2 linked regions of the Homo sapiens genome follow. The protein of the gene in region 1 purifies or fractionates together with the protein of each later gene. This does not show direct contact. Each region holds a gene or a part of one and is shown in the gene's direction. Other genes may lie near its edges.

Region 1 (4,309 bases):
GACCTAGAGTGATGAGGAAAACTAAAAATAAACCCATTTCACTTGTGTTGGCCAGCTGATAAGAGAAAATTGCCCAACTAGAGAAGGTTGATTCATGAAATATTTGGGTACTTCATCCAGAACCTAGGGCATCTCTTTTGTCCATTTCACTATGACTCTTCCATGATCAAGGATAGCCCACATTTTTCAGAAATGGGCACCACCTTTACCAATGCTTGAAATGCAAGTGAATGATCAGGAGGGAACCTTGCCATGGGACCTTGTCCCAGATGGAACTACCATGGCGAGTAGTCTGATGCTTCTAGTGTGACACTTACTTGGAGAGGCATCCAAGATAGGCCTTTTATTAAATACAGGCTTGGCCGGGTGCAGTGGCTCACACCTGTAATCCTAGCACTTTGGGAGGCCAAAGTGGGTGGATCACCTGAGGTCAGGGGTTCGAGACCAGCCTGGCCAACATGGCGAAACCTCGTCTCTACTAAAAATACGAAAATTATCCAGGCGTGGTGACGCATGCCTGTAATCCCAGCTTCTTGGGAGGCTGAGGCAGGAGAATCGCTTGAACCCAGGAGGCAGAGGTTGCAGTGAGCCGCGATCGCACCATTGCACTCCAGCCTGGGCAACAGAGTAAGACTCCATCTTAAAACTAAATACATACATACGTGCATACATGCATACATACATACATACAGCTTTAGGGTAAATTGTCTTTTTTTTTTTTTTTTTTGAGACAGAATCTTGCTCTTGTCACCCAGGCTGGAGTGCAGTGGCGCGATCTCGGCTCACTGCAACCTCCGCCTCCCAGGTTCAAGCAATTCTCCTGCCTCAGCCTCCTGAGTAGCTGGGATTACAGGCACCTGCCACCACGCCCAGCTAATTTTTGTACTTTTAGTAGAGACGGGGGTTTCGCCATGTTGGCCAGGCTGGTCGCAAACTCCTGACCTCAGGTGATCCGCCTGCTTCAGCCTCCCAAAGTGCTGGGATTACAGGAGTCAACCACCGCGCCCGGCCAGGTAAATGGTCTTTTTTAACTGGTCATATTTTAGATTTGGATTTAATCCTCTATAAACTTCAGAATTAAGAGAAAATGAAATGCTCCAGGGAGTAGTATTTCCCACTTAGAACATACAGCATATTTGCACTTCTTTTGTATGTCAAATAACTTGCTTTGTTTCTGTGGAAGCCAAGAAGTTTCTATCTTTCCAACCCTGCTTTCTAACATAAAATAGGAAAAATAGGGGTTTAGGAATATAAAATGTTTGGATATGAATCTTATCTGTTAGATAGTACTGAGTTATGTAGTTCTAGAACTATTGGATGTTTCTGGTTAGAAGGAAGTTTCTTTAGTTTATTTAACACTGCTGTGGAGTCAGCACATGCAGTCGCCAAATCAGTTAGATTAGAACCTACAGAGATCTCGGTAACAGGAGCACTGAGTGCTAGAAGGTTTAAAATAGATGTCATATGATACCAATTATAACTCAGTGAAATTTTACAGTCCTAGGACCCTATACAGAGCATAAGCCAAAATGGAAGATGGTCCTGTTTTCTATGGCTTTAAAAACATTTTTATTACAATGTTTGCTACGTTTTTTTTCTTTAAGCTTTTAATTAAAGTTTTTTTGGCTCTCCTAACCCATTTCTATATCGTCAAAGGAAATAGAAAAGAAGCGGCTAGGATAGCAGAAGAGATCTATGGTGGAATTTCAGGTAAAAGTACATGAATTTGTTCCTAATATTTAAAGAAAATCCCTCCTAGATAATTCATATGACTAGTATTTCTGGAAGGCAGATTATATTTATACTTTGATTTTAAGTGGGTAGTTTGAAAAATTGTCACTTAAAGTAGCAAATGCTGTTGGCTGCATCAATTTGTGGAGGATTTTCAGCTTTATTTTTTGCAAGTTCGTAGATCTTGTAGCAGTTGTTATTTAAGAAGTAAATAGGTAGTGGCTTACTAAGAGTATTTTGAGAAACTTCATTTCTACTAGCCAAAGTAATTACTTGTATATAATTATTTTCTTTAATATTTTAAAGCAAACTTTAACAATGAAGGGCATTCTAACCAGACTAAATTCTCTCAGGAAATAGAATGACTAATAAATTATAATTAAAGCAGCAAACGTGGCAAGCTATGTGTATTTTTTTTGCTGTCATTTGCAACTGGAATTGATTAACCACTTGTCACTGTCAGGAAAAGCTCTTCACTAAACCCATTTTATATGGTAGCATGCAAAGCACTCCAAACAAAGTTTATTCTAACATGAAATGCCAAGATTTGGGCAAAACATTTTAAATTCTCATGCTTTGTAGAGAATAGTGTCCATTTCTTTCAAGAAATGATTTACTTTAATTGTGGTGAGATGCTACAAAAGTAAATGAGTCAGATATCCCTGTCACTCCTGGGATTGTCACTTAATAGAGGAGTATTTATTCATAAACAGAGTTCAGAATTTCCCCGTGTATTTTTAGTGTTTGCAGGGGTTCCAGGATTACATCATTCTTTATCTAGTATCCATTTCAATTTGCATCCAGGATTCTCTTTCAAAATAGTCTTATGTGATTCCAATACACTAGACAACTCAGAAGACACTAGACAACAGCAGTCTTATCTAAAGAAATAAGACCTCCAAGGACGAAGCATCAGAATGCTTCAATTAACTGGGGAAAATGAGAAGAATTGTGAAGTTTCAGAACGTATCAGAAGGTCCGGACCATGGAAAGAGATTTCTTTTGGGGATTATATTTGTCACACATTTCAGGGAGGTATGTTACTTTGACTAGTTACAAAAAAAAAAAAAAAAAGTAATGCTTCTGATAAGTTTCAAGTTAAGCATGATCTGAAAAGTTATCTTCTAATTTAATTTGTCAATTTGGGCAAGGGCTTTCTAAAATTTTCAATAATAGTTTTGGTGTTCTCATAGATAAATCATTCTTCTGGTCTAAATTAGATGAAGTCCAACAAAGTCAATATTGGCAAGAACATGTTACAAATGTTTTCTCCTGTTGCACCTGCGCATTATTTCTGTCTTTGTGGTCTTTAATTAAGTGCACTCTTTTTTTTTTTTTTTTTTTTTGAGATGGAGTCTCGCTCTGTAGCCTAGGCTGGAGTGCAGTGGCACCATCTCGGCTCACTGCAACCTCCGCCTCCCAGGTCCCGGTTGAAGCAATTCTCCTGTCTTAGCCTCCTGAGTAGCTGGGATTACAGGCACACGCCACCATGCCCAGCTAATTTTTTTGTATTTTTAGTAGAGACAGGGTTTCACCATGTTGGCCAGGCTGGTCTTGAACTCCTGACCTCATGATCCGCCCGCCTCGGCCTCGCAAAGTGCTGGGATTACAGGCGTGAGCCACCGCGCCCGGCCTCAAGTGCACTCTTAAAAAAGGTATAAAACCTCCTTATAGTCAAAACCCATGTAAGCATGGTTTGAATTTAATCTGGAGCTGGAATACAAATCTCTTAAATACAGTTCGTTCATTCTGTAGTGCAAATATCTTTACTTGTTCAATCTCTTAAAATAGGTTAATTTGCAAGTAGCATAGTATTCTAAGGTCAAAAACATTTTTCAATTATTGTTAAAGAGGCAGGGAATGGTGCATGTTAATTTCCCAGTTTTATTTCTTTCATATATATATGTATATGTGTGTGTGTGTGTGTATACATATACACGAATCCCCCCACCCCCAAATTTACCAAGATTTGGTAAATAAGACTTTCTGTTTTTTTGTTTGTTTTGAGATGGATTCTTGCTCTGTCACCCAGGCTGGAGTTCAGTGGCACGATCTTAGCTCAGTGCAACCTCCTCCTCTGGGGTTCAAGCAATTCTCGTGCCTCAGCCTCCTGAGTAGCTGGGATTATAGGCGCACGCCACCACGCCCGGCTAATTTTTGTATTTTTAGTAGAGATGGGGTTTCGCTATGTTGGCCAGGCTGGTCTCGAACTCCTGACCTCAAGTGATCTGCCCACCTTGGCCTCCCAAAGTGCTGGGATTATAGGTGTGAGCACCTGTGCCTGGCCGCTAAATAAGTCTTTCTATAAGAATGTAGGCAGTAACATGCCTGGACCAGTATTTTTCACATGGTTCTGTGTTTTTCTTTTGATACCACTGTTAACAGTCAGATACTATATTATTACAAATCTTCCCCCGCCCCACAAAATACTTAAAAAATAACAACTCTTTATTCAAAACCCAGTCCTTTAAATATTAATGCAACTAGGCCAATACACCTAAACAATAAATCCTCCTCAACCCCTCAGTCTCTCTAATTCCTAAATTATCCCATAACAATATATTTAGGTGTATTAAAA
Region 2 (3,817 bases), on another chromosome or scaffold:
TCTCTACCAAAATGGTCCTGATAGATGTCAGGGCACTTAGGGCAGGCAGCCTCTCGGAGCTTCATGCCTGCTGTGACTTGTGTCCCTGATCCCTGGCATGGGCAGAACGTCAGGCATCAGTGATTTCTCCTCCTAAGGCTGCTGGAAAAGTTGTGTAGGTGGATTGGTTGGTTTTTAAAGTAAGTTTCACATTTGGGCTTTATTTTTTCTGCACTTTGTCCCTTTCATCACTTTAAGGCAGCAAGGTTGATTGCAGGGGCTTTGATATCAGACCACCTGGACCTGAGTCCAGCTCGCCGCCCCCGCCCCCACCCCTGCCCGGCTGCCCGGGGCAGCTGTGGGACTTTAGGCTAGGTATTTGAACTGTATGTGCCTCACACTCAGCCAGTTTGGAAAGTAGGCACAAAGTGTTTTCTTAGCACATTTCTCCTACTTTTGACATGAAATGCAATTAGTGGCCTAAGTCATTTCTCATGCTCAACTTCCGTATCTCTTTTCTTTCATTCCTCTCTCCTTAGTAAACACTAATCACCTTTGAAAGGAAATGTGTAAACTGTGGCTGCTGGAAATCTTACCTCAGGATCCCTTTCTCTTTTTTTTTGAGATGGAGTCTCGCTTTGTTGCCCAGGCTGGAGTGCAGTGGCGCGATCTGAGCTCACTGCAAGCTCCGCCTCCCAGGTTCACGCCATTCTCCTGCCTCAGCGTCCCGAGTAGCTGGGACTACAGGCGCCTACCACTACGCCCGGCTAATTTTTGTATTTTTTAGTAGAGACTGGGTTTCACTGTGTTAGCCAGGATGGTCTCAATCTCCTGACCTTGTGATCTGCCCGCCTCGGCCTCCTAGAGTGCTGGGGTTACAGGTGTGAGCCACCGCGCCGGGCCGGATGCCTTTCTCTTCACAAGTACAGTTAGTGCCCATTTGCCCATTTCATTTTTGTATATACTGCTCCTTCTTCAATATCAGCCTCGTTTTTCACAGATGGTTAAAAATACATTTTACCAGACATACCTTTTTAAAAAAGCATCTTCCCTTTGAAGTATCTGTCCTTTACGTATTGAAACATTAAAATTCCACTATCTTTGGTTGCAGGTTATAAATGTGTTTGGCCCAGGCCCCCACTGCCCCGCTTCCTCCTGTGCTTGTGAGGACACCTGGCTCACTTTCTGGGGGGCCATACTCTACTTCCCTGTCTTGTCCCTGCCTTAGTCAGAAATGGGTCCAGAATAGGAAGCTCTCTTGTCCCTTTTGCCGTCTTCTGGGAAGTCAGATGATTAGCAAAGCCTTATAAGGATGAACAGATGGTATCCTGATATAAAAGCCAGACGTCTTAAGGAAAAAGATTGTCAGATTTGACCATGTAAAAATTAAAAACACAAAATGGAAGAAGAAATGATCAACTGGATTAACATCCTTGGTATGTAAATAGTCCTTACTATTCATTATAAAAAAGACGGATACTTCTCTGGAAAAATGTGGCATTGGCTACAAATAGGTGATTCATAAAAGGAGAAATAGAGGTGGGCAGTAAATATCTGAGGAGATGTTCACTCTCATCAGTAACCAGAGAAAGGCGCAGAAGACCATGAAGTGTGGCTTACCACTCACCAGATTGGCAGGCACAAAGGTAGATACTTGGTGGCTGGGGGAGGAGTGTGTGACAGAGAGCGAGCAGGCTCTCTTGTTGGAGGGTGTGTGTATTTGCACACCTTTCATTGGTCCTTCAGCCACGTAGACTACCTGTAACTCGTATGTACCCTTGGACTTGTCAGCTGCACTTCTAGGGATTTAATCTAAGGAAATAATGTGCCAGATTGATGTACGGGGACCACCTTGTTAGTGAAAAGCAGACAGTGTCCAGTGGCAGCTTTATGGTGTGTCCCGAATAAAGGGAAGGAAAAGCCCAACCGCACCTCTGGTTTGTGGTGACGCTGACAGCAGCTCATCAGCCCTTCCCACAGCAGGACTGATGGGTGCCTGGGGCTCCACAGGCCTTTCAGTGCTGGCACACAGGAGCACCTTCCTCTTTTAGAGAGATTTGCCCTGGCTCCACCTTGTTGTCCCGGCAGGGACCCTTCGCCTGCTCTGGCACAAGGTCAGAGGCTCCATGTCTGTGGGATTGGAGGGCCTAGGTCAAGAGCTCAGTCAAAGCTTCTCCTAGAGTCCAAGCTTCTATTACAGTTCGTGGGGTGTCCTTTGTCTCCTTGCTTAATGACATCTCTGATAGCCAAGTGTCTCTGTCTCCTGAGCTGTTGCTGGGACTATCCTCTGTGAGGCCAGGCTAGAACTTCCTCAGTGACTGGAGGCACTGCACCCCTGATGGGCCTCACTGCTGCCCAGACCAGTGGCCACCACATGCTGGGGCCGGCCTTGCCTCCCCATTACCTGCCCCAGCCAGATGCAAAGCCCTCCTGCTCTGGCTGTGCTGTTAACAGCAAAGCTCAGGGTGAGCTTCCTTCTCCTTCATTCAGCTAATGTTGATTGAGCTTAGGCACTGGCAGAGGAATTAGCATTCCCTGCTTTTATGGATGAAACAGGCATTCAACAAATAAATGACAAATATATAACTGAAGGTTGCATTAAGATCTATATAAGAAAATGATTAGCTAGATCAGAAATAATTCCTCCATTCAACAAAATATAGCCACTAGGATTTGACTTCATTCCCAAAAAAGTTATTCAGAAGTTGACAATTCAGATCCACAAGTCACCAATACCTCTGTAGGGTAGAAAGACGTCCACCCAGTTGGTAGGATACATGATTTGAGTTTTCCTTTTTTCTTTTTAAGGCTAAAAGTAAATTTTAATGGTCAATTTAAGGTTAGTTATCTGTTTTTTTTAACTGCTCTTCACAGACAATTAAGATTATAGCTTTGATTCAAACTCTACATATTTTTCTCCTGATCTGAATTGACTTTTGTGAATTTAAACATGCTCTAATTCAAAAAAGTTTATCAGAGGTAACAATTATGGATAAAGCCTGATATTTTATTTACAGATCAAAGCCACAGCACAATAATTCAACAAATACAAAAGTAATTTTATCTCCAGAAGGAAGCTTGGCAATAAATTATACTTTTTTCAAAGTATGGAATGATCATTTAATCCTTTTAAAATTATTTAAAATTTTTTTTTTACTTTTTAAGATTATTGGGAAAATGCTAATCTTCTCTGTATCATCCCAATTTGAGCATATGTGCTGCGGAAGTGAGCACTGGAATGATCATTTCCATGAGAGTATATGGTGTGCCTTTACAGCTGATAGACAGTAATGACCAGGACTCTCAGGTACCAGCTTCAGAAACAGGGCTTCATCAGACCTCTGAATCCTGGTGTGCCTTCCCTGAGCATGGGCCCCCCACCTAAGGAGTGATTGATACTCAGAATTTTGCATTAATCTTTTATCCTCAAGCTTTTTCTTTTGAACTTTAAAAAAATAAAAAAAAAAACCCAGTTACGGCTGGGCGTGGTGGCTCACGCCTGTAATCCCAGCACTTTGGGAGGCCGAGGCGGGCGGATCACGAGGTCAGGAGATCGAGACCATCCTGGTTAACACGGTGAAACCCCGTCTCTACTAAAAATTCAAAAAACAAAATTAGCCGGGCGTAGGTGGTGCATGCCTTGTAGTCCCAGCTACTCAGGAGGCTGAGGCAGGAGAATGGCGTAAAACCGGAGAGGTGGAGCTTACAGTGAGCCGAGATCGTGCCACTGCACTCCAGCCTGGGAGACAGAGAGAGACTCCGTCTCAAAAAAAAAAAAAAAAACCCAGTTATTAAAATGTCATATGCTGGGAGCTCCCATTGTTGTTAACCTGCATCA

What was found.
Region 2: the proteins of ASB11 (region 1) and UBE2F purify together in Homo sapiens (affinity purification with western blotting, with the first as the bait; one study listed by BioGRID). This does not show direct contact.

Annotation. Positions count from the first base shown.
Region 1 is NC_000023.11:15,312,826-15,317,134, reverse strand, and holds the start of ASB11 (ankyrin repeat and SOCS box protein 11), read left to right. Parts: upstream 1-1,494; 5' UTR 1,495-1,529; coding exon 1,530-1,710; intron 1,711-2,575; exon of another isoform or gene 2,576-2,648; coding exon of another isoform or gene 2,649-2,766; intron 2,767-4,309. UniProt on the Homo sapiens protein: Substrate-recognition component of a cullin-5-RING E3 ubiquitin-protein ligase complex (ECS complex, also named CRL5 complex), which mediates the ubiquitination and subsequent proteasomal degradation of target proteins, such as BIK, DIRAS2 and RPN1.
Region 2 is NC_000002.12:238,025,851-238,029,667, forward strand, and holds part of UBE2F (NEDD8-conjugating enzyme UBE2F), read left to right. Parts: intron 1-3,817. UniProt on the Homo sapiens protein: Accepts the ubiquitin-like protein NEDD8 from the UBA3-NAE1 E1 complex and catalyzes its covalent attachment to other proteins. Together with the E3 ubiquitin ligase RNF7/RBX2, specifically neddylates cullin-5 (CUL5).